3 linked regions of the Homo sapiens genome follow. The protein of the gene in region 2 purifies or fractionates together with the protein of the main gene of each other region. This does not show direct contact. Each region holds a gene or a part of one and is shown on either strand. Other genes may lie near its edges.

Region 1 (7,035 bases), on a different chromosome or scaffold from region 2:
TTTCTGTTTCCCATCCGCGGCACGTTCCCCTCTCACCAGTCCCCCACGATCCCCTGCAGCTCAGGGATTCGCTCCAGTGCCTGTTTCAGTAGCTTCTCCAGCCTCTTCAGAGCCTGCCCCAGGTTCTCTTTCTGCTGTTTTTCCTGGGATGCCTGGATCTGCAGCAGCTCTGAGGGTGAGAAAGCCAGGAGGCAGCTTTGAGTCCTCTGGCTCGCTGGTACCTTACAGCAATGAGTCCCCAATTCTCCAGTCCCCTAGTCTTGACCTCAGCAGCTCCCGCAAACCAATGATGAGTCTGTCTCCTTCTCTTCCCAGCCTGGAAGTCCCCTTCTGAGGGACTGCCCTTGAGATGAGGACCTGTCCCTCCTCCCAGATCCTCATCTCAAGGGCAGTCCACCACCCCCAGCCCCATCCAGGCCTCCTTCTGGATGCCTTCCTCCCTCCCCGTGAGAGCCCATCAATCTCCATGGCCTGTCCGCTCAGTCTCCTGAGCGTTTCTTCCTCTCCTCTGCTCCAGGCCTCAGTCTCCTGCTCTGGTTCACCCTCCGCACTACACCACAGTGATCTTCCTGAAGCCTAAATTTGATGCTCTCCCTCCTGTCTAGAACCCTCCAAGGTTCTCCAGTGCCCCCAAGGCAGAGTCCAAGCCCTTCAGCAGGTATTTGAGTTTCATGATGTGGCAAAGCCTGGCCGATTCCCAGGGCCCACAGTAGAGAGTATCTTTCCTCCTGGAGGCCCCTCCAACACTCTCGCTCCAAGGCTTCCTCCTCCGCCTGCTCTAGCTTCACCCTAGCGGTGCTTTCCTCTGGGACTGGGACTGGGCCTACCTCTCCATGTGCACAGAACAGGCCCAGCTCAGCAAGTGCAGACGAGCAGCGTGATCAGACAAGCTGGGCCTGAATCCTGACCCCATCCCATCCCTGCCCTGTGACCTTGATCACGACACTGGCTCTTTGTTCAGCTCCGTCTGCTGTCAGGTGGAATTACTGGGGCAGGGGACCGATGGGAGAACTCTGGGGATGGGACCCTTAGGGCTTGCTGAGAGGCTGAAGCTGGTGAGGGTGGGGGGATTAGGGTGATGGAGAAATTCAGGATGACTCCTGGGTTTCTGGGTGCAGCACTTGGATGAGGAGGGTGAGATAATTTAACAAGGAAGGAAACCAAGAAGAGGAACAAAATTGTTTTTTGGAGTAGAGAGAACCAGGAGTTCCATGATAGATGTGTACAGTTCAAGATGCCCATGATTATAAGAAATATAAAATTAGCTGGGTGTGGGGTGCATGCCTGTGGTCCCAGCTACTCGGGAGGCTGAGGCAGGAGGATGGCTTGAGCCCAGGAGGTTGAGGCTGCAGTAAGCCAGGATGGCACCACTGCACTCCAGCCTGAGTGACAGAATGAGACCTTGTCTCAAAAAAACAAAAGCAAAAACAAAAAACACATGAGGTGGGCAGAGGGCGTGGTAGGCAGAGGCTGAGGTGGGCAGAGGCCGTGTGGGGTCTGGGGCTGCTCTCATTGCTCCTGCACACTGTTCCCTCCCCTTGTGAAGAAGTGGAGGGCAGGGAGCCCCAAACTCAGAGGCTTGAACAGTCTCTTCCTCCAGTGCTGCTGGCACTGCCGGTTCATTTCTCATCAATTCTCCTCTTCCATGTATTTATCCTTTCATTCTTTACTCTTTACTTCCATCTGGGGAAACCCCTGGGGTGGGGACCTTTCTCCTCACTCCCCATCAAGCCATCTGGGCTGGCACCTGGTAGACACCCAGTATTTGGTGAGTGAATCCAGGAATGAATGACTTCTCTAACCTTCAGTTTCCTCATCTGTAAACTGGGGTTCTTAAAAGTCCCTTTCCTCATCGTCATGACTCCAAGAGACTGTGTGTGTACACAGACAATGATGCTAATCACATTGGAGACACAGGGTGCTTACTGCATAGCAGGCAGTGTTCAGTGCCCTGTGTGGGTCCCCTGCCTCAATCTGCCCAGCACCTCGGTAAGATATTGCTTCATGCTTACTCCACTGAGGAGGAAGCTAAGGCACGGGGAGGCCACACAGCTAGGAAGAGACGGCAGAGAGGATTCCCAGGCTTTGAACTGCTGAGGTATACTATGTGACGGTGATGAATGAACACGTGGAAAGTCGACGGCAGTGTAGCTTAGTGGTTGGGAGCACAGACCCATTTCAGACCACCTGGATTCAAATTCCAGCTTTGCCATTTGGGCAACCTACTAACCTCTGCGTCTCAGTTCCCTTCTCTGTAGAATGGAGAGAACAGCAGCACTTACCTTATGGGACTGCCGTGCAGATGAAACAAGGGAGAATGTTTAAAGCCCTTAGCACACAATGGGCACTGCGTAAACAACGGGGTTGCTGGTAAGGACTCGTGGAGGCTGCTGGTAGTGGGAATGGGCGGGGAGGCTGGATGGGGTGGCAGGGCAGACCTACCCTGGGTGGGAAGGCCTGGCGGCAGGCTGGTCTTCATGTGGAGTAGATCCCAGCACCAGAGGCTCCGCTGGTCCTGCAGGAGCAGAAGGTCCTGGCGAAGAGAGGCAGCCGCCGGCAGGAGCAGCTCCGAGGCCTGGAGGAGGAGGGAAGGACGGTCACCTGGGGCGGGGCTGGGGAGACAAGTCACAGGAGACGGGCACTCACCTTCCCTGGAGGCAGCCCCAGCTTGTGGCTCAGCGCTATGAAGCTGGAGCCCCTTGGGGACGCGGGGTGCAGCTGGTGGATGGATGGGAGGACCGTGGGCAGGGGCTTCAACCTACGGGCGGGGAGAAGTCTGGGTTGGGTGGGGACTGAGAGGAGGCCTTGGGTTCTGGAGGCTCTGGGGGCCCAGGAACTTCAAGGTGGGTCTGGGGACTAGGATGCCAAGACCAGGGCTGCTGACCCAAGGGTGAGGTCTGGCAGCCTGGGAACACTGGGGGTCTGGGGTTATCTTTTTTGAGGAGGTTCAGGGAGTGACAGTCACCCATGGCAGGGGATGCAGGGCAGGGGTGGGGCAGCCCCAGTCTCACTCTCCCGGCCTGTGCCGCAGCAGCGTGCCCAACAGAATGTGGGGCAAATGCCGGACTTCCTCCTCCAGACAGCGCAGCAGCTCCCGGCTCTGTGGTGCCACTGCCTCAAATGTAGGGACCACCTTTCGCTGGACCAGAGCTAGCACCTGTGGGGAAGGGGAGGGGTGGGTGGGGCATCACAACATCACAAGTCCACCCAGCCCCATCCTGGCAGATCCAGCCCTACCCAGACCTCACCCCAACTCCCATCTCACCTCCCCCGGGCTCCGGCACAGGCGGGTCTTGCTGGCCGAGTTTCCCTTGATGAGCAGGCGGACCTGTTCCTGGGTCTCCTCCTGAGGAACCAGGATACCCTGAGACCCACTCCTCCCAGCTCCCAGCCTCAGTGTGCCTCTCTGCTTAGGTCCTGCTTCTGCCTGGGAGTCTCACCTGGGCTCTTGCCTAGGAGGCCCAGTTCTTAATTTTTAAGTGACAGCATTCTTTTTTTTTAAGTGATAGCATCTTGCTCTGTCACCCAGGCTGGAGTGCAGTGGTGTGATCATACCTCACTTCAGCCTTGAACTCCTGGGCTCAGATCCTCCCACCTCAGCCTCCCAAAGTGCTGGAACCACAGGCATGTGCTACCACACAGGGCTCAGGCCCAGTTCTTAGCCATAGTTTTCAAGCCTCCCCTCTGGCCCTCCACAAGGCCCTGGGCCTAGCCTCTCACCACCAGCTGGCGCCAGTGCAGGATCCGCTGCTGTTTGGCCTGTAGCTCCCTCAGCAGGAGCTGCCGATGCCCAGCTGCATCCTGCAGCTCCTGGCTCTGATCGTGCAGGGCCTTGAGCTCCGTCCACAGGCAACAGCGCCGAAGCCCCAGTATCAGCACCTGCCTGCAGGGCAAGTGGAGGAGAGCAAAGGAGAGAAGGGTGACTGAGCCACACAAGGGACCATAAACCAGGGAGAGACACTGCAGGGAGAGGAGGCAGAGATAGGAGCCACAGAGGCTGAAAAAGTCCAATGGGCTGAGACACTCAGAAGCGAGATGGCCTAGAGACCTCTTCTCGGAGAGCCCCCCACCTCTCACTGGATCCCAGGACGCGTCTCTCCACCTCCTCCACCAGGCCCTGGAGGCGCTGGGTCAAGACTTGCCGCTCCTTCAGGAGGGTGCTCCGCTGGGAGACCAGCACACCCACAGTCCGCCAGCCCTCCTGCAAGCGGGGTACAGAATCAGGGTACACCCAGGGCATGATCCATGGGTGAGGGGATTAAGGAAGTCTTGGAATGTGGTGGGGAGGCGAGCCCTGGGGTCACCTGGATGAGATGAACCATGGACGGCAGGGTCTGGCTGGAGTCTGACTGGTCCGGGGCCTGGGGTCTGGGGTGGGGGAAGAGCTGCTGAGGGAGCCGTGCTGCGGCCTTGCCTTGGTACTCGAGGGTGGACAGTATCAGTCCTGCCACCCCACCAGGCAGTGGGTTTCAGTTCTACCCCATCAGCAGGTGGCTGGGCCAGGGGTCCTGAGGCTGTCCCAGCTCACCCACTCACATGGCCTTCCCCAACTGTGAGAATACCCTGCCCCACACCTGGATATCTCTGTGTCGCCAAGCCCATCCCCACTGCACAGGGACCGAATCTCTGCCTCCCGCTCTGCAGCCAGGTGCTCCAAGGCAGCCAGGACGTGGCCTGGGGGGTGGTTTGTCAGCAGCGTCTAGGGGGAGGGAGGGTGAAGTCAGGGCAGGATCGGGGCAGGGCTGTGAGCTGAGACCCCATGGGAATAGGGCTGTCATCAAGAGTTAGGTCCTGGCACCCTAAGTTTTGATCAAGGAGCGGGAGGGTGTGGCTTTCCTGAGAGCCCTGCCCTCTCACCTCCACTGAGCTCAGCCACTGCTGGTACGAAGTGCCAAAGTGGTCATCATGAGGGGTTCTGTGGGGTTGGGTAAGCGGACAGAGAACGTTACAAGACACGTCAATTATCCTCTAGTTATCACCACCACCCTATAAGGTAGGGGCTGTCATCTTCCCTATGCCTGTTAGACTTGAGTTCCCCAATTATACCAACCTGCTGGCTTTGGGGCCTTTACATGGGTTGTTCATCTGGGACACTCTCTGGACCCTTCACCCCAGCTAAGCCTCCTCACCAGAGAACCTCTCCCCTCCCTGCCTTCTTAGCTGGGAAAGGCACTGCCTCTGGGTGCCCAGAGCCTCTCAGGCCTCCTCACTCCCGCAACAGCCCTGACCACCTGGCTGTCACTGTTTGTGATGAGAGACTGTCTCCTTCTATTCCCAGCCTGGAAGTCCCCTTCTACAGAACGTAGCCCAGAAGCTCAGTGTCTGAGGAATTAATAAATAAGAGACCCCCACTTAAAACCCAGGGTCTTTACAGGGTCTCTGGGGGCTAGGGACACTCACGGGAGGCTGCCCCTCTTGGCCTGGGGAAGCAGGAGGTTCTGCAGGAACTGGGCCCGGAGGGTGCAGGCTGTTCGGACATCACGCTAGGGAGAAGAGGAGGAAGGGACCTGAGGGGGACCCTAGCATCTGCCTGACTCCAGGCTCCCTGCCCCTTCTCCCATGACCAGGACTCTTACCAGGACCACGGGCTCCAGGCCCAGAGCTGCCGACGTGAGGGATCCAAAGGTCACATCTACTTTGGCTTTCCTGGAGGGAGAAGTGCAGCTGGGGCTGGGGTCCCTGGGAGAACAGATGTCTGTGCCCCATCTCCTCTCACTGCCAGCAAGGCCGGTCAGAGGAATCACTAAGCCTAGATCTCGGGAGCCATCTCCAGATTAGGCCACTGTCACCTCCCAGCTGGAATATTGCATTAGCCTCCCCACTGCTTTTGCTCCACGAGACTGTTTGCCACCCAGAAGTCAGTGATTCTGTTAAAACTGTAGGAAGATCATGTCCCTGCTCAGATCTGTCCAAAATAATGTGATGTTTCCCCAGCGCATTCAGAATAACAATGGGCCCAGCGTGGTGGCTCATGCCTGTACCCCAGCGCTTTGGGAGGCTGAGGTAGGTGGATCACTTGAGGTCAGGAGTTCAAGGCCAGCCTGGACAACATGGTGAAACCCCGTCTCTACTAAAAATACAAAAATTAGTCGAGCACAGTGGCATGCGCCTATAATCCCAGCTACTGGGGAGGCTGAGGCAGGAGAATCGCTTGAACCCCAGAGGCAGAGGTTGCAGTGAGCCAAGATCATGCCACTGCACTCCAGCCTGGGCAACAGAGCCAGACTCTGTCTCAAAAAAACAAAACAAAACAAAACAAAAAAACCAAACCCAGAATAACAATGGTTAACAGGCACTTCTCTAAGCACTTCACATGATTTATTCCACCTAACGATCATGCCTACCCTATAAGCTTGGTATTAATATTATCCCCATTCCACAGATCTTAGAATCTGAGGCACATAGAAAGAAGTTAAATACCTTGCCCAAGGTCACCCAATTTTTTTTTTTTTAAACAGAGTTTTGCTCTTGTCACCCAGGCTGGAGTGCAGTGGTGCAATCCAGGCTCACTGCAACCTCCTTTTCCTGGGTTCAAGTGATTCTCCTGCCTCAGCTTCCTGAGTAGCTGGGACTACAGGCACGTGCCACCACACTCGACTAATTTTTGTATTTTTTAGTAGGGACGGGGTTTCACTATGTTGGCCAGGCTGGTTTCGAACTCCTGACCTCAAGTAATCCGCCTGCCTCGGCCTCCCAAAGTGCTGGGATTACAGGTGTGAGCCACCATGCCCAGCCTTAGGTCACCCAATTTTAAGTGGCCAAGCCAGGGCATGAACCAGTGTCAGGGTAAAATCGCAACACATCATCCACAGTTCTCTGTCCACTCCTTCGACCTCACCTCCTCAGGTTCTCGGTCTTGCCTGAGAAACTTGAGCTGACATTGGCCTCCGGGCTGCTCTTCCTGCATGCTGAGCACACCACCTCTGCTCTTGCTATTCCTTCTCCACAGAAATTCCTCTTCCAACTCAATGTCCCCTCCTCAGAGGCCTTCGCTGACCACCCTCGCTAGGGCAGCATCTCCCTCTCCCTTCTATG
Region 2 (7,337 bases):
TTTTTAAAATAGGCTGGGCATGGTGGCTCACACCTGTAATCCCAGCACTTTGGGAGGCCAAGGTAGGTGAATCACTTGAGGTCAGGAGTCCGAGACCAGCCTGGCCAACATGGCAAAACCCTGTCTCTACTAAAAATAAAAAAATTAGCTGGGTGTGGTGGCGCACACCTGTAATCCCAGCTACTTGGGAGATTGAGGCACGAGAATCACTTGAACCTGGGAGGGAGAGGTTGCAGTGAGCCAAGACTGCGCCACTGCACTCCAACCTGGGCAGCGGAGCAAGACTCTCTCAAAAAACAAAATGAAACCCTTTAAAATAGAAGTTGTCAGCCGGGCGTGGTGGTTTACGCCTGTAATCCCAGCACTTTGAGAGGCCGAGGCAAGGAGATCACTTGAGGTCAGGAGTTTGAGACCAGCCTGGTCAACATGGTGAAACCCCATCTCTACTAAAAATACAAAATTAGCCGAGCATGGTGGCACACGCCTGTAATCCCAGCTACTTGGGAGGCAGAGGCAGGAGAATAGCTTGAACCTGGGAGGCGGAGGTTGCAGTGAGCCAAGATCATGCCATTGCACTCCAGCCTGGGCAACAAGAGCAAAGCTCTGTCTCAAAAAAATAGATAAAAATAAATAGAAGCTGCCACTTACTGTGTTCCTAACTGCCTAACCCTGGCAGATGCTGGGAGCGTAGAGTAAAGGCGCCGTGGTTCAGGGAGAGAGGGGGCTGGTTCTCACCTCTGGTGGCAGCTCAGGAAAGATATTTGATGAAATCAAGATCTGTCTACCGAACACTGATAAAGGCTCTATTAGAATTTACTGGACTTCCCCAGAGTGCCACAGGGAGGCTGCTGCATGAAGAGGCAAAAATGTTAAACGAGGATGCAGCACGGAGTGTTCAAGGGACACAGACCTGAGGCAAAAGACAAAGCTGGAGACGGGCATTTTGCAAATTTGAAGCCAACTGGCTCACAAAATGAAAGAGGCTGTTAATACCAAGTGTGAAGGTGGGATGGCATCACCAGAGCTGGCCAAGTTCAGAGAAGCTGGAAATCTCAATTTGGATGTGACGTTATTAAATGATGACAACACACGTACACTACATGGGCCAACCATGGGCGAAATTCAGACTTTGGGTCTCTGGGTTACAGGTAAGGTCGTGACAGGCTTTGATGACTGGGGGTGCTGCAGAAATTCTGAAGTAGGTGACAACAGGTAGCTCCTCCCCACAGAATTAAAGCAATAATAACTCATATCTACCCCATGATACAGATTTCAAAGTACTTAATGTCATCACAGTGCTAAGGCCTAGGAATCCCCTTCTGGAGACAAAGAAACAGATTCAGAGAGCTGTAGAAGTTGGGCTGAGTCACATAGCAGTTGAGTATGGAACTGATTTTATCTGATTTTTTTTTTTTTTGAGACAGAGTTTTGCTCTTGTTGCCCAGGTTGGAGTGCAGTGGCGCAATCTCGGCTCACTGCAACCTCTGCTTCCGGGTTCAAGCAATTCTCCTGTCTCAGCCTTCCGAGTTGCTGGGATTATAGGCGCCCGCCACCACGACCGGCTAATTTTTTGGATTTTTAGTACAGACAGGGCTTCTCTATGTTGGCCAGGCTGATCTCGAACTCCTGACCTCAGATGATCCACCCGCCTTGGCCTCCCAAAGTGCTGGGATTACAGGCATGAGCCACCGCGCCCGGCCTTTTTTTTTTTGAGGTGGAGTTTCACTTTTGTTGCCCAGGCTGGAGTGCAATGACGCGATCTCAGCTCACCGCTACCTCTACCTCATGAGTTCAAGCAATTCTCCTGCCTCAGCCTCCCGAGTACCTGGGATTACAGGCATGTGCCACCACACCCGGCTAATTTTGTATTTTTAGTAGAGATGGGGTTGCTCCATGTTGGTCAGGCTGGTCTCGAACTCCTGACCTCAGGTGATCCGCCCGCATAGGTCTCCTGAAGTGCTGGGATTACAGGCCTGAGCCACCACGCCCGGCTGATTTTATCTGATTCTAAAGTCCTGGGAGTCCCCTGACCTGATGATGATGATGAAAATGAACATTTACTATGTGTCAGATATTTTTCTAAGATTAAAGCTCTTGCTCTGAGGTTCAGAATTCAGGGGATCCATAAACTTGGATGGGAAAAAATTATATTTTTATTTTTGCTAAACTCTAACCAAAATTTATGATTTCCTTCTATATGGATTGAAGCAGTAGCAGTATCTTTGGCTTAGTCACCAATAGAAATCACATATTTTCATATCAAATTGTAGTTATTGCAAGTATCTCAAAATATTTATGCTCAAGTGATTTCAAAATCACAGTGGTTGTTAAACCACCACTAAATTGTTCGTGAGCAACTTCTGTTTCAGATGCTCCTGTGATGTAGCCGCCATTAATTGGTTACCTCCAGGCTTAGCAGTGGTTCAGTGACCAAAGGGCGAATCTGCCTGTTCTGAGTAGGGCTTCTCCACTCTTCTGCATTCCCTGTCTTTTTTTTTTTTTTTTTGAGACGAAGTCTTGCTCTGTCGCCCAGGCTAGAGTGCAGTGGCGCGAACTCGGCTCACTGCAAGCTCTGCCTCCTGGGTTCACGCCATTCTCCTGCCTCAGCCTCCTGAGTAGCTGGGACTACAGGCGCCCGCCACCATGCCTGGCTAATTTTTTGTATTTTTAGTAGAGACGGGGTTTCACCATGTTAGCCAGGATGGTCTCGATCTCCTGACCTCATAATCCGCCCGTCTCGATTATAGGCGTGAGCCACCATGCCCGGCCCAGCATTCCCTGTTTTTAGTTGTTTGCTGATCAATATGTAAGAGGAGGGGCGTCAAAGACCACCCCACAGTTTAATGTCCTTATTCAAGCTGGTCGACAACACACTGAGGTCATTAAAAAAGAAAAATTTAACTTTCGGCCAGTCTTATTAATGTTAGTAAACACATAATATAAATTTCTGGTTTTATTTTTTTGAGATGGGCTCCTGCTATGTTGCCCAGGGTGGCTTTGACTCCTGGGCTTGAGTGATACTCCCCCGCTCAACCTCTCAACCTCTCGAGTAGCTGGGACTACAGTCGTGTGCCAGCACTCCCCAGCTCCAAATTTTTTTTTTGTTTTTTGTGGGTTTTTTTTTTGAGACGGAGTCTTGCTTTGTTGCCAGGCTGGAGTGCAGAGGCGTGATCTCAGCTCACTGCAACCTCCGCCTCCCAGGTTCAAGCGATTCTCCTGCCTCAGCCTCCTGAGTAGCTGTGACTACAGGCGTGCACCACCACACCCAGCTAATTTTTGTATTTTTAGTAGAGACGGGGTTTCACCATGTTGGGCAGGCTGGTTTCCATCTCTTAACCTCATGATCCACCCGCCTTGGCCTTCCAAAGTGCTGGAATTACAGGCGTGAACCACCATGCCCGGCCAAATTTGTTTTTAAATATAGTTTTGATAATTGTTCTCATTGTAATCCTAAGCATTTTGTTTTGTGCATTTATTTATTTATTTATAATACAGAGTTTTGCTCTGTTGCCCAGGCTGGAGTGCAGTGGCACGATCTTGGCTCACTGGAACCTCCCCCTCCTGGGTTCAAGGGATTCTCCTGCCTCAGCCTCCTGAGTAGCTGGGATTACAAGCACCCACTACGCCCAGCTAATTTTTTGTATTTTTAGTAGAGATGGTGTTTCACCATATTGGCCAGGCTGGTCTTGAACTCCTGATCTCAAGTGATCCGCCCACCTCGGCCTCCCAAAGTGCTGGGATTACAGGCGTGAGCCACCGCGCCCGGCCTGTTTTATGCCTTTATAAGCAGCTATTCTGAGAAAGCATTCACAGGCCTCACCAGATGCCAGAGTCCATACTGCAAAATCCAAGGGAGGCTAAACACCCCAGTTCTAAATGTTTTCAAGCCATTCAGATACTGTGCACAGCTGCCCTTTGAAGTACGGTCTATTATATCTCTTTTACAGACCCAGAAACTGAGGCGCAGAAGTTAGGGTCAGCCCCAGGTCACACAGCTAACAAGAGCTGGCCTAGGCACCCAGGGACCTGGCCCCCTAGCCTCTGTGCTTTGCTACTGATTTCAGCGCTCCTCTTGTGGCTTTTTCTTGAGGAGCCCAAGGGTCAGGGTCCCACCCCGCGATATGAGGCCAGTGGCACTGCCCCCTAGCAGGCGCGAGATGCCAGAGCCCTAGGATGTCTGAAGGGCCGGGCAGGAGGCGGACGGGCGTGGGCCAATGGCTGTCGCAGTGCCTCATCTTGCCGTCTGTGTGAGCCCAGGTATGCAGTAGGCTCCGCCCAGGACCCAGCCCGGCCCCTCCTTAGGCCTGGGCTCTGGGAGCGGAAATTCCGGCGACAGCAGGGCAAAACAGGAGCTGATTCGAGCTGGCAGAGCTGGGCCATGGAACCGGTAGAGACCTGGACCCCCGGAAAGGTGGCAACTTGGCTGAGAGGTGGGTGGGGCTGGGGTAGAGTTGGGCTTGAAGGGGACTAGGTGTGGTGTCCCACCGGGAAGCGGGAGGAGAGGAAAAGGAAAAAAAATCTGCGGACTGGGTGCGCTGGTTCACACCTGTAATCCCAGCACTTTGGGAAGCCAAGGTGGGTGGGTCACCTGAGGTCGGGAGTTCAAGACCAGCATGGTGAAACCCCGTCTCTACTAAAAATACAAAAATTATCTGGGGGTGGTGGCAGGTGCCTGTAATCCCAGCTACTTGGGAGGCTGAGGCAGGAGAATCGCTTGAACCCAGGAGGCAGAGGTTACAGTGAGCCGAGATTGCACCGCTGCACTCCAGTCTGGACGACAGAGCGAGATTCAGCTCAAAAGAAAAAAAAAAATAATAAACTGCGGGCTCTATCAGTCGGTCAGTCAGTCAACAAATATTTACAGAGCACCTAACATGTTCCAGGAACCGTGCTGGGCAGAGAGACAGATGAGATGACCCTGGGGGGCCCAAGGACCCAGAAGGGGGCCCCTCATCATGGCAGTAGCCCAAGAGGCCTCTAGGGTGATAATGGGGAGGCGGTGTCATGAAAACAGGAGGGAGGCCTGACAGGCCCACACCCACTGTATCTCCTTCATCTTCCCTGGCCCCAGGGCCAGTGGGCTGTTGTTAAATCCGTTTCTTAGAGTCAGAAACTGACACACAGAGCCAGGAAATGATTTGCTCAGTCTCTGGTGTCATTTTCCCCGCTCCACACCCTGAGCTCCTAGTGACAGAAGCAGAAGCCCTAGGCCAGACTGAAGAGGTTGACACAGCCCCACCCTGGGGCTCCTATCCAAGGGGCAAGGTGCTGTCCAGGCTCAGCGAGCCCACACAGATGGGAAGCAACACACCCCACAGGCAGACTCAGAGAAGGAAGGGCCTCCTGACACACAGTGCGACCAGGAGCAGGCAGTCAGGACACCCCTCCCAGAGTGGGGAGCTGGAGCGCACTAGAGACAGGCTCAGGAGGACCAGCCCGGGTAAGGGCAGGAATTCAGGGCTGGGTTCAGACTCCCAGGCTGGATTCCAGGCCCACCCCCACCGCTTGCCAGCTCTGTGACCATAGGTCTTAGTTTTTCTGTCCATCAAATGGGAAAGGCAACTCTGACCTTATGAAGTCGACAAAGTGAGACAATCATGACATAGTTCATTTGTAGCTCAATGCCTGGGTCTATTGGGAGGGCACCAGCCCAATACAGTCACCGTGCAGGAAGGAGGTGGCTCAGGGGCCCATAGCCAGGGAGTGATAGGTTCATGAACTCCCAGTCCAGTGCTCTCAATGTGACACAGGGAACACACACACACACCTCCCCCAGTGAAGGAGCCTGGCTTAGAAGGGGAAGAATTCCTTCGAAGAGTGAGCAAGCTACTTAACCTCTGTGTCAGTTTTCCCATCTGTAAGCAGGATAATGATAGTCTTTACCTCCTAGAAATGCAGTGAGAATCAAATGTGTTAATATGTGTAAAGCTCTTATAGATTTGCATAGCACATAGTAAGCCCTCAATAGACACTTTTCTTATTTTTCAGTGCCTACCTTGTCCAGGCACAGGCCGGGGGTTAGAGACAAATGGTTATCTAAGGCCTGATCTTTGAAGAGCCTGTGATAAAATGGGAAAGACCGATGGTCAAGTGCAGGGGTTTGTGGAGGCTCAGGGGCAGTGGGAACAAGAGGAGAGCCCTCCATCCCACTCAGCCTGGGAAGTTATGGAAGGCTTCCTGGAGGAAGTTAGATGAAAAAGGAAGTGAAGGAGATAGAAGAGCAACGCCAGCAGGAGGAATAGCACTTGCAAGGACGCTGAGGTAAAAGGGTGTTCCAGGAGCTGCAAGGAATTAGCTCTGTGCATCTGAAATGTTGAGTTTAGGGGGCTCTTCAGGATATGATGCTGGAAAGGGAGGTAGTAGCCTAATCATACAGGGCCTGTAGGTCATGGTAAAGTCTGGCAATAATAATATGATGGCTATTATTGGCTGTCTCCCACGAACCAGACAGTGGCCAAGGCCTTGACATATGTTGTGTCATTCAATACACACATGATTAGAAGGTAGGTACTTTTATTATTCTCACATTACAGGTGAGAAAACTGGGCACAGAGCAGTGCTATTACTTGCTCAAGTGTTCACAGTGTCTCAGTGACTCCATAGCCTCTTGTTCTTATCCCCTGTATCATTAGTTCTCAAACTTAAGGGAGCATCACAGTCACCTGCATTAAAATACAAACTGCTGGCTGGGCGTCGTGGCTCACACCTGTAATTCTAGCACTTTCAGAGACTGAGGCAGTCAAATTGCTTGAGCCCAGGAGTTCGAGACTAGCCTGGGCAACATGGTGAAATCCCACCTCTGCAAAAAATACAAAAATTAGCTGGGTGTGGTGGTGTGTGCCTGTAGTCCCAGCTACTTGGGAGGCTGAGGTGGGAGGATGGATTGAGCCTAGGAGGTCAAGGCTGCAGTGAGCCGTGACTGTGTCTCAAGCCCCTGTCTCAAAAAGAAAAAACAAAACAAAAACAAAAAAAAGACTGCTGGGCCCCAACCTCAGAGTTTCTGATTCAGCAGGTGTGGGGTGAGGCCTGATAATTTGCATTTCTAACAAGTTCTCCGGTGAGTCTGCTGCTGCTGGTCTGGGGGCCACTTTTAAGAACCCATGTCCTATACTTTCCTGCTTCTCAACTCAGTGGCCTCATCTGTGAAATGGGCAGAACAGCCTGGGTGTCAGAGTTGTCATTAGGGTTAGACTAGAGGGAAAAGAGCTTTGCAGGCATGAAGAACCATCCCAAAAGGTCCTGACACCTCTGCTTCCCCGAGCTGAGCCTTACTCTCCCTCCAGGTCTTGACGACTCCCTGCAGGACTATCCCTTTGAGGACTGGCAGCTGCCTGGCA
Region 3 (7,035 bases), on a different chromosome or scaffold from region 2:
GCAGCGGGAACAGGTCTGTTTGGCTCACCGGGTCTTCATCAGCAGTGTCCTTCCTGGTCCATGGATGTTGGTGTGCTCCTAGCCACCTGCGCCCCGGGGTTGTCCCCATTCCCCAAAGGAAGACATTTGGGCTCCTGAGAGAGTGAGGGGCAGATGCCCCTCCTGGTTTTCCTTCTCCCTCCCTGGGCGAGATTTTTGGGGCTCTTCCTTTGTCCCCTGTCCGTTTGCTATTTAAATGTGGGTGTGTAAAAACTTCCAAACTGGCCGGAAGCAGTGGCTCACGCCTGTAATCATAGCACTTTGGGAGGCCGAGGCGGGCGGATTGCCTGAGCTCAGGAGTTTGAGACCAGCCTGGGCAACATGGCGAAACCCCGTCTCTGCTTAAAAATACAAAAATTAGCAGGGCGTGGTGGCGGGCGCCTGTAGTCCCAGCTACTTGGGAGGCTGAGGCAGGAGAATCGCTTGAATCCGGGAGATGGAGGTTGCAGTGAGCCAAGATCGCACCATTGCACTCCAGCAGCCTGCGTGACAAGAAGGAGACTCCGTCTCAAAAAAAAAAAAAAAAAAAAAAGAGAAAAAGAAAACTTCCAAACCCACCCCACAATAGTCAGGCAGCTCCCATGTCCTGTGCCCACCAGCTTCATCAATGATTAATATTCTTACATTCTTGTTTCATTATCTCCAATTTGTTCTCGTCCCCAGTTTTAAAAGCCAATCCCAGACATCATATGGTCTGTACATATGTTTAGAGTGTATCATTGACAGATAAGAAATCCTTTTAGGCTGGGCCAAGTGGCTCACACCTGTAATCCCAGTACTTGCGGGGTGGGGGGGGGGTACGGGGGGCGGGGCAAAGTGGGAGGATCGCTTGAGGCCAAGACTATGAGACCAGCCTGGCAATATTATAATAAGACACCGTTTCTGTGAAAAATAAAAATACAAAAATTAACCAGGCATGGTGGCATGTGCCTGTGGCCTCAGACTCAGAAGAGTGAGGTGGGAGGATCAATTGAGCCCAGAAGGTAGAGGCTGCAGTGAGCTGTGATTATAACATTGCACTCCAACCTGGGCGATAGAGCAAGACCCTGTCTCAAAAATAAAAAATTAATAAGTTCTTAGTATTGTCTTATTTCTGGTTAGTTTTTGTGTTTCCCAGACAGTCTCAAAATGCCAGTTAACAGGTGGCTTGTTTGAATGAAGTCCCCAAAGTTCAGTGTGATTGGCTGATACGTCTTGCCCATTGTTTTATCTCTGGTGGTTCCTACCCGCTGTGTCTTCCCCATACTGTTTATTGGAAAAATCCAGTCTTCTGTCCTATAGGCAGAGCATGGCTGATCGCATGCCTGTGGTGCCCTTGAACATGCCTCTGTTTCTGCAAGTGGGTGTTGGTTAGAGGGAGAGGTTTGATCGTATTCAGAAGTGCTTTAGTGCTTCCTGAGCCAGTGTTGGGAACCTCATCTCTGGTTGTCCCGACCTAATAAGATCACCCTAGTCTCTTTTTTTTTGCGAGACACAGTTTCGCTCTTGTTGCCCAGGCTGGAGTGCAATGGCGTGATCTTGGCTCACCGTAACCTCTGCCTCCCAGGTTCAAGCGATTCTCCTGTCTTAGCCTCCCCAGTAGCTGGGATTACAGGCATGCACCACCATGCCCGGGTAATTTTGTATTTTCAGTAGAGATGGGGTTTCTCCATGCTGGTCAGGCTGGTCTCGAACTCCTGACCTCAGGTGATCTGCCCGCCTTGGCCTCCCAAAGTGCTGGGATTACAGGTATGAGCCACCGCAGTTCGAGGCCAGCCTGGCCAACATGATGAAACCCCATCTCTACTAAAAATACAAAAAATTAGCTGGGCGTGGTGGCAGGCACCAGTAATCCCAGCTATTCGGGAGGCTGAGGCAGGAGAATTGCTTGAATCCGGGAGGTGGAGGTTGCAGCTCCCAGGAGCCAAGATCACACCACTGCACTCCAGCCTGGGCAACGGGAGCAGAACTCCATCTCAAAAAAAAGAATCTTTTATCTGAAGATTGTAACATCCATCAGTGGTCATTGCTTGGGTCAGTTACCATTATAGGTTGGAAAATGGTGACTTGTGATTTTGTCAGTTTTTTTCTTTGCAAGTGTCGTGTATGTTGGAATTTTATGAGGCTGGGTCCTAGGCCCTCATTTATCCTCAAAGATCACATATTTCTCCCAGGCCCTCTCTCCTGAGACAGAAATGTGCTCTTCTTCCTAGGGTACTGGCTACTTCATACTCCCTTCTCACCCAGATCCAGAAATCTCGGTCGCAGCCCCTTCTCCCTCTGTCCCAGGAGTCCAGACCCCCAGCTCCTCCTCCCTCAAACCCAGAAGTCCAGACCCCCAGATCCTCCTTCCTTAGATCCAGGAATCCAGGCCCCAGCCCCTCCTCCCTCTGACCCAGGAGTCTGGCTGACCTCAGCAACTCCCTTCTCCACACTGTTTGTCTTGCTGTCCCTTTGGTCACCAGGCCAGAGTCCTGGACTTTGCCCTGTACACTTCCCTGTCTCTCACCTCCAAGCCCGTCAACCACCATGTCCTATCCTTTCTGCTTCCTGATCCTCTCTGTCTAGTCCATCTATTTTTCAGCCCCACCGCCCAGGCCCCAGCTTAGGTCTCACCCTCATTGCTTGGAGGACTCCCGAGGCAGCTGCTCTCCACCCCTGTAACCCATCTCCCAGAGGGATGATTCCTAGCTCCTACCCCATCCTTTCAGTCCTTCTGAGGCTCCCCATATCCCCAGGTTGACCAAACCCCCCGTGAGCTGGACGAGCTGGCCTTCCCACTGTCCTCTCCCACCACGTTCTTCCCACCACCACATCCTCTTCCACCCTGGCTGGAGTTTGTCCCCCAGACTTCTTGTACTTTTCAACTTTCATGCATTTGTGCCAAGCCGCTTCCTCTGCCCAAAATGCTCTTCTAGCTCCTTTTATTTTCCCAGATCCAAATGCTCCCTGATTGTTTTGTTTTGTTTTGATTTTGAGACAGGGTCTCACTGTCGCCCAGGCTGGAGTGCAGTAGTGCAATCACTGCAGCCTCAACCTCTGGCTGACATTGTTCTTCATTCTGGGTTCCCACAGTCTCTGGATTTTACTGCCCTGATCTTTCCAACTGGCTGTGTTCCCACTTGGAGGACAGGGCCCAGACACAATCCACTTCTGCATCCACCGTATCACATAACATGAATATGTTTTGCATTCATTAATTTTCTTTCTTCTTTCCTTCCTTCCATCATTCCTTCCTTCCTTCCTTTTTGTTTCTCTTTCTCCTCCTTTCCTTTTCTTTCTTTTTCTTTCTCTTCCCTCCCTCCCTCTTTTCTTTCTCTCTCTCCTTCCTTCGTTCCTTCCCTCTTTCTCTCTTTCTTTCTTTTCTGTCTTTTCTCCTTTCCTTCCCTTTCGAGACAGTGTCTCCCTCTGTCACCCAGACTGGAACAGTGATGCAAACACAGCTCAGTGCAGCCTCAATCTCCCTGGCTCAAGCAATCCTCCCACCTCAGCCTCCCGAGTAGCTGGAACTACAGGCGTGCACTAACACACTCCACTAATTTTTTTGTTTTTTTGTAGAGATGGGCTCCCCCTATGTTGCCCAGGCTAGTCTCAAACACCTGGGCTCAAGAGATCTTCCCACTTTGGCCTCCCACAGTGCTAGGATTACAGGTGTGGGCCACCACACCTGGCCTCATTCATTTCTTTAAAATCTTGGTGCTGACTGTGAGGCAGGCCTGCACAGGAGTGAATCACATAGATGAAGTCCCTGCCTTTGTACAGCCGACACCCCAGGCAGGCTCTGAGATATGGCTGGCTGCTGCTTCTCCCGCTATGCTTAAGCTGAGGGTGAGAACCTTGTTGTTCTTTCAGGAACAGAGGCGGCTGAGCCAGGAACGGGATCGCCTAGAGGGTCTTCGCCAGAGACTCCGCAAGGCCCAGGGACAGCTCGACTCACAGCCAGAGGACCAACGCGAGCGGCTTCTGCAGGGTGTGCAGGAGGTAATGGCATCTGGTTCTTTCTTTTTTGTTTTTTTTGAGACAGAGTCTCGCCTCGTTGCCCAGGCTGGAGTGCAGTGGTGCGATCTCGGCTCACTGCAACCTCCGCCTCCCAGGTTCAAGCGATTCTCCCATCTCAGCCTCCCGTGTAGCTGGGACTACAGGTGCGCACCACCACACCCAGCTAATTTTTGGCATTTTAGTAGAGACGGGGTTTCACTATTTTGGCTAGGCTGGTTTCGAACTCCTGACAGGTGATCCACCTGCCTCGGCCTCCCAAAGTGCTGGGATTACAGGCGTGAGCCACTGTGCCCAGCTGGCCCTCTGATTCTTAGCCCCCTCCTCCCCAGGACCCAGGAATCCAAGTCCTCAGTCACCTTCTTCCTCTGACCAGGAGTCCCAGCCCCAGCCCACTACTCCCTGGGGTCTTAGGGATTCAGGCCTCCACCCTTTTTGTGTTCCGACCTATAGATGAGGGAACAACTGGATGTGGCCCAACGTGCCTATGAGGACCTGGAGTTCCAGCAACTGGAGCGGGAGAGCCGGCAGGAGGAGGAGGATCGGGACAGCCCTGGGCCCCAGGTGCCAGACCCCAAGGTCCAGGAACTCCAGGCCAGCATGGCGCAGCACAGAGTGAGTCATGCCTGACCAGCGCTGCCCCCCTTGCTGCTCCTCTCTGTCTCCCCTGCTCTGTGCCTGCCTTTTTCTCTGTCCTTGTTTCCTGCCTGTCATGTTCTTCTGAATAGTAACAACAAGAGCTGATACTAATGAAACATTTACTATGTGCCAGATATGGTCCTGAATATTTCATGAGCATTTCCTCACTGAATCCTTACAACAAACTTATGAGGCAAGTTCTATTACGTTTTTTTTTTTTCACGTTATAAATAAAGAAGCTGAAGGTCAAGGTGCTTAAGTAATCTTTTCCAAGTTTCCTTAGTAAGGGACAGAGCCAGGATTTTTTTATTTTTATTTTTTGAGATAGCGTCTCACTCTGTCACCCAGGCTGGAGTGCAGTGACACGTTCACAGCTCACTGCAGCCTCCACGTCCTGTGCTTAAGCGATCCTCCCACCTCAGCCTCTCGAGTAGCTGGGACCACAGGTGCGAGCCCCTACACCTGGATAATTTTTGTATTTTTAGTAGAGACAGGGTTTCACCTGGTCTTAAACTCTTGGATTCAAGCGATCCTCCCACCTTGGCCTTTCAAGATGCTGGGATTACAGACATGAGCCACCGTGCCTCGCCACAGCCAGGATTTGAACAAACTTGGTATTCACCACCACATTCTTTGCCTCTATTCCAAAAAGATGCTTCATCAGATCCTTCCTGGGAGCCTCACATTCAAGGGTCTGACTTGTGAGACCCTTGGGAAAAAATGGGCATGTTTGACCATATTTAACACAGAGTTTCCCAAAGTTTTGGATTAGAAAGCTCGGCCGGGCTCGGTGGCTCACTCCTGTAATCCCAGCACTTTGGGAGGCCGAGGCAGGCAGATGACCTGAGTTTGGGAGTTTGAGACCAGCCTGACCAACATGGAGAAAGCCCATCTCTACTAAAAATACAAAATTAGCTGAGGGTGGTGACGCATGCCTGTAATCCCAGCTACTCGGGAGGCTGAGGCAGAGAATTGCTTGAATCCGGGAGGCGGAGGTGGCGGTGAGCCGAGATTGAGCCATTGCACTCCAGCCTGGGCAACAACAGCAAAACTCCATCTCAAAAAAAAAAAAAAAAAGAGCTTTTCTTGGGTCTCCTTTCCCCACCTGCTTCTGGATCTTTTTCCTCTCCCGCTGGCTTTTCCTTCGTCTCGGGTTGTCTCTACTTGTCTCTGTTCTATTTCTATCTTTTCTTTTGCCTGAATCTTTGTCTACATCTCTGTCTTTTGGGGCCTGTCTTGGTTACTGTTCTCTCTGTCCATCCCTTTCTCTTCATCTTCCCCAGATCTCTTCTGGACCCTCAAAAGGGAAGAGGGTCCAGGGAGCTGAACGCTGGGTCCCCAGCCCTGGACACTCCGATCCCATGGTCTCTGGGAGTGGCTGGAGTAAACCCCAGCCCTCCAGGCAGATGTGGTTCTGTGGGAGGGTGGCCTGGAGAGCTGGCTGGGGCCGTGACAGATGAGTAACCGGGACAGAGGGGTGCTCTGCAGCACCGGATCCGGGTCCTGGAAGAGCAGCTCAAGTCACTGGGGGAGCAGATGGCAGCCGAGAGCCGGGGGTTGAGCCGGAAGAAGGAGGAGGCCCTTCAGGCCCTGTCACAGGTGAGCTACCTGTCACCTGCCCTACCCTACCGTCCTCACTTCCCCCTGGGGCATCCCACCACCTCCCTGCACCCCAGATGTCTCCTGACATTAGGGAAAGCAGCTGGGACAGCCCATTCTGACTTTGACACGTAGCTGTCCATATCTTCTGGTAGGAACGGAGCCGGCTGCTCGAGCTCAATTGCCTTCAGGGAACACCTGGCGGGGACTTCTCTGAGCCCAACCCGGCCCTCACTAAGGTATGGGGATTTTGTATGCCTCTCAGTCCCTCCTCCCTCAGACTTGAAAGTCCAGTCCCCAGCCCCTCCTCCCTCAGACGCAGGAGTCCAGGCCCTAGCCCCTCCTCCCTCAGACCCAGGAGTCCAGGCCCCAGCCCCTCCTCCCTCAGACTCAGGAGTCCAGGCCCCAGCCCCTCCTCTCTCAGACCCAGGAGTCCAGGCCCCAGCCCCACCTCCCTCAGACCCAGGAGTCCAGCCCCCAGCCCCTCCTCAGGGAGCCAGGAGTCTCTGCCCACAGCCCTACATTGGGAGACTGGACACGAAGGACCACATTCCATCTCTCCTTAGTTTTTCTTTCTGAGAAATGGGTGGCACTAGAGGCATGGGCCAGAGCACGTGGAAACTGGCAGTTGCTCTGGGGTCTCTCCTGCTCCCACGAAACTTCACCCCATCTCTTGCAGCTGCTGTTCACCCAGAAGACAGACCGCCAGCTGCTGGTGCTCCAGGATGCCGTGGCCCACTCCGCTGCCACCCCTACTTCTTCCTGCCTCTTTTCTGTCCACAG

Evidence for each region. The genes of interacting proteins can lie anywhere in the genome.
Region 1: the proteins of CNKSR1 (region 2) and HAUS5 purify together in Homo sapiens (affinity purification with mass spectrometry; 2 studies listed by BioGRID and IntAct, with this or other methods). This does not show direct contact.
Region 3: the proteins of CNKSR1 (region 2) and PHLDB3 purify together in Homo sapiens (affinity purification with mass spectrometry; 2 studies listed by BioGRID and IntAct, with this or other methods). This does not show direct contact.

Annotation. Positions count from the first base shown.
Region 1 is NC_000019.10:35,615,735-35,622,769, reverse strand, and holds part of HAUS5 (HAUS augmin-like complex subunit 5), read right to left. Parts: intron 5,647-7,035; coding exon 5,577-5,646; intron 5,484-5,576; coding exon 5,401-5,483; intron 4,916-5,400; coding exon 4,858-4,915; intron 4,700-4,857; coding exon 4,575-4,699; intron 4,369-4,574; coding exon 4,305-4,368; intron 4,202-4,304; coding exon 4,071-4,201; intron 3,884-4,070; coding exon 3,721-3,883; intron 3,347-3,720; coding exon 3,266-3,346; intron 3,158-3,265; coding exon 3,012-3,157; intron 2,759-3,011; coding exon 2,647-2,758; intron 2,576-2,646; coding exon 2,443-2,575; intron 2,348-2,442; coding exon of another isoform or gene 2,331-2,347; exon of another isoform or gene 2,283-2,330; intron 170-2,282; coding exon 37-169; intron 1-36.
Region 2 is NC_000001.11:26,173,170-26,180,506, forward strand, and holds the start of CNKSR1 (connector enhancer of kinase suppressor of ras 1), read left to right. Parts: upstream 1-4,321; 5' UTR 4,322-4,378; coding exon 4,379-4,430; intron 4,431-7,283; coding exon 7,284-7,337. UniProt on the Homo sapiens protein: May function as an adapter protein or regulator of Ras signaling pathways.
Region 3 is NC_000019.10:43,494,712-43,501,746, reverse strand, and holds part of PHLDB3 (pleckstrin homology-like domain family B member 3), read left to right. Parts: coding exon 1-13; intron 14-3,870; coding exon 3,871-3,999; intron 4,000-4,467; coding exon 4,468-4,629; intron 4,630-6,126; coding exon 6,127-6,252; intron 6,253-6,407; coding exon 6,408-6,491; intron 6,492-6,931; coding exon 6,932-7,035.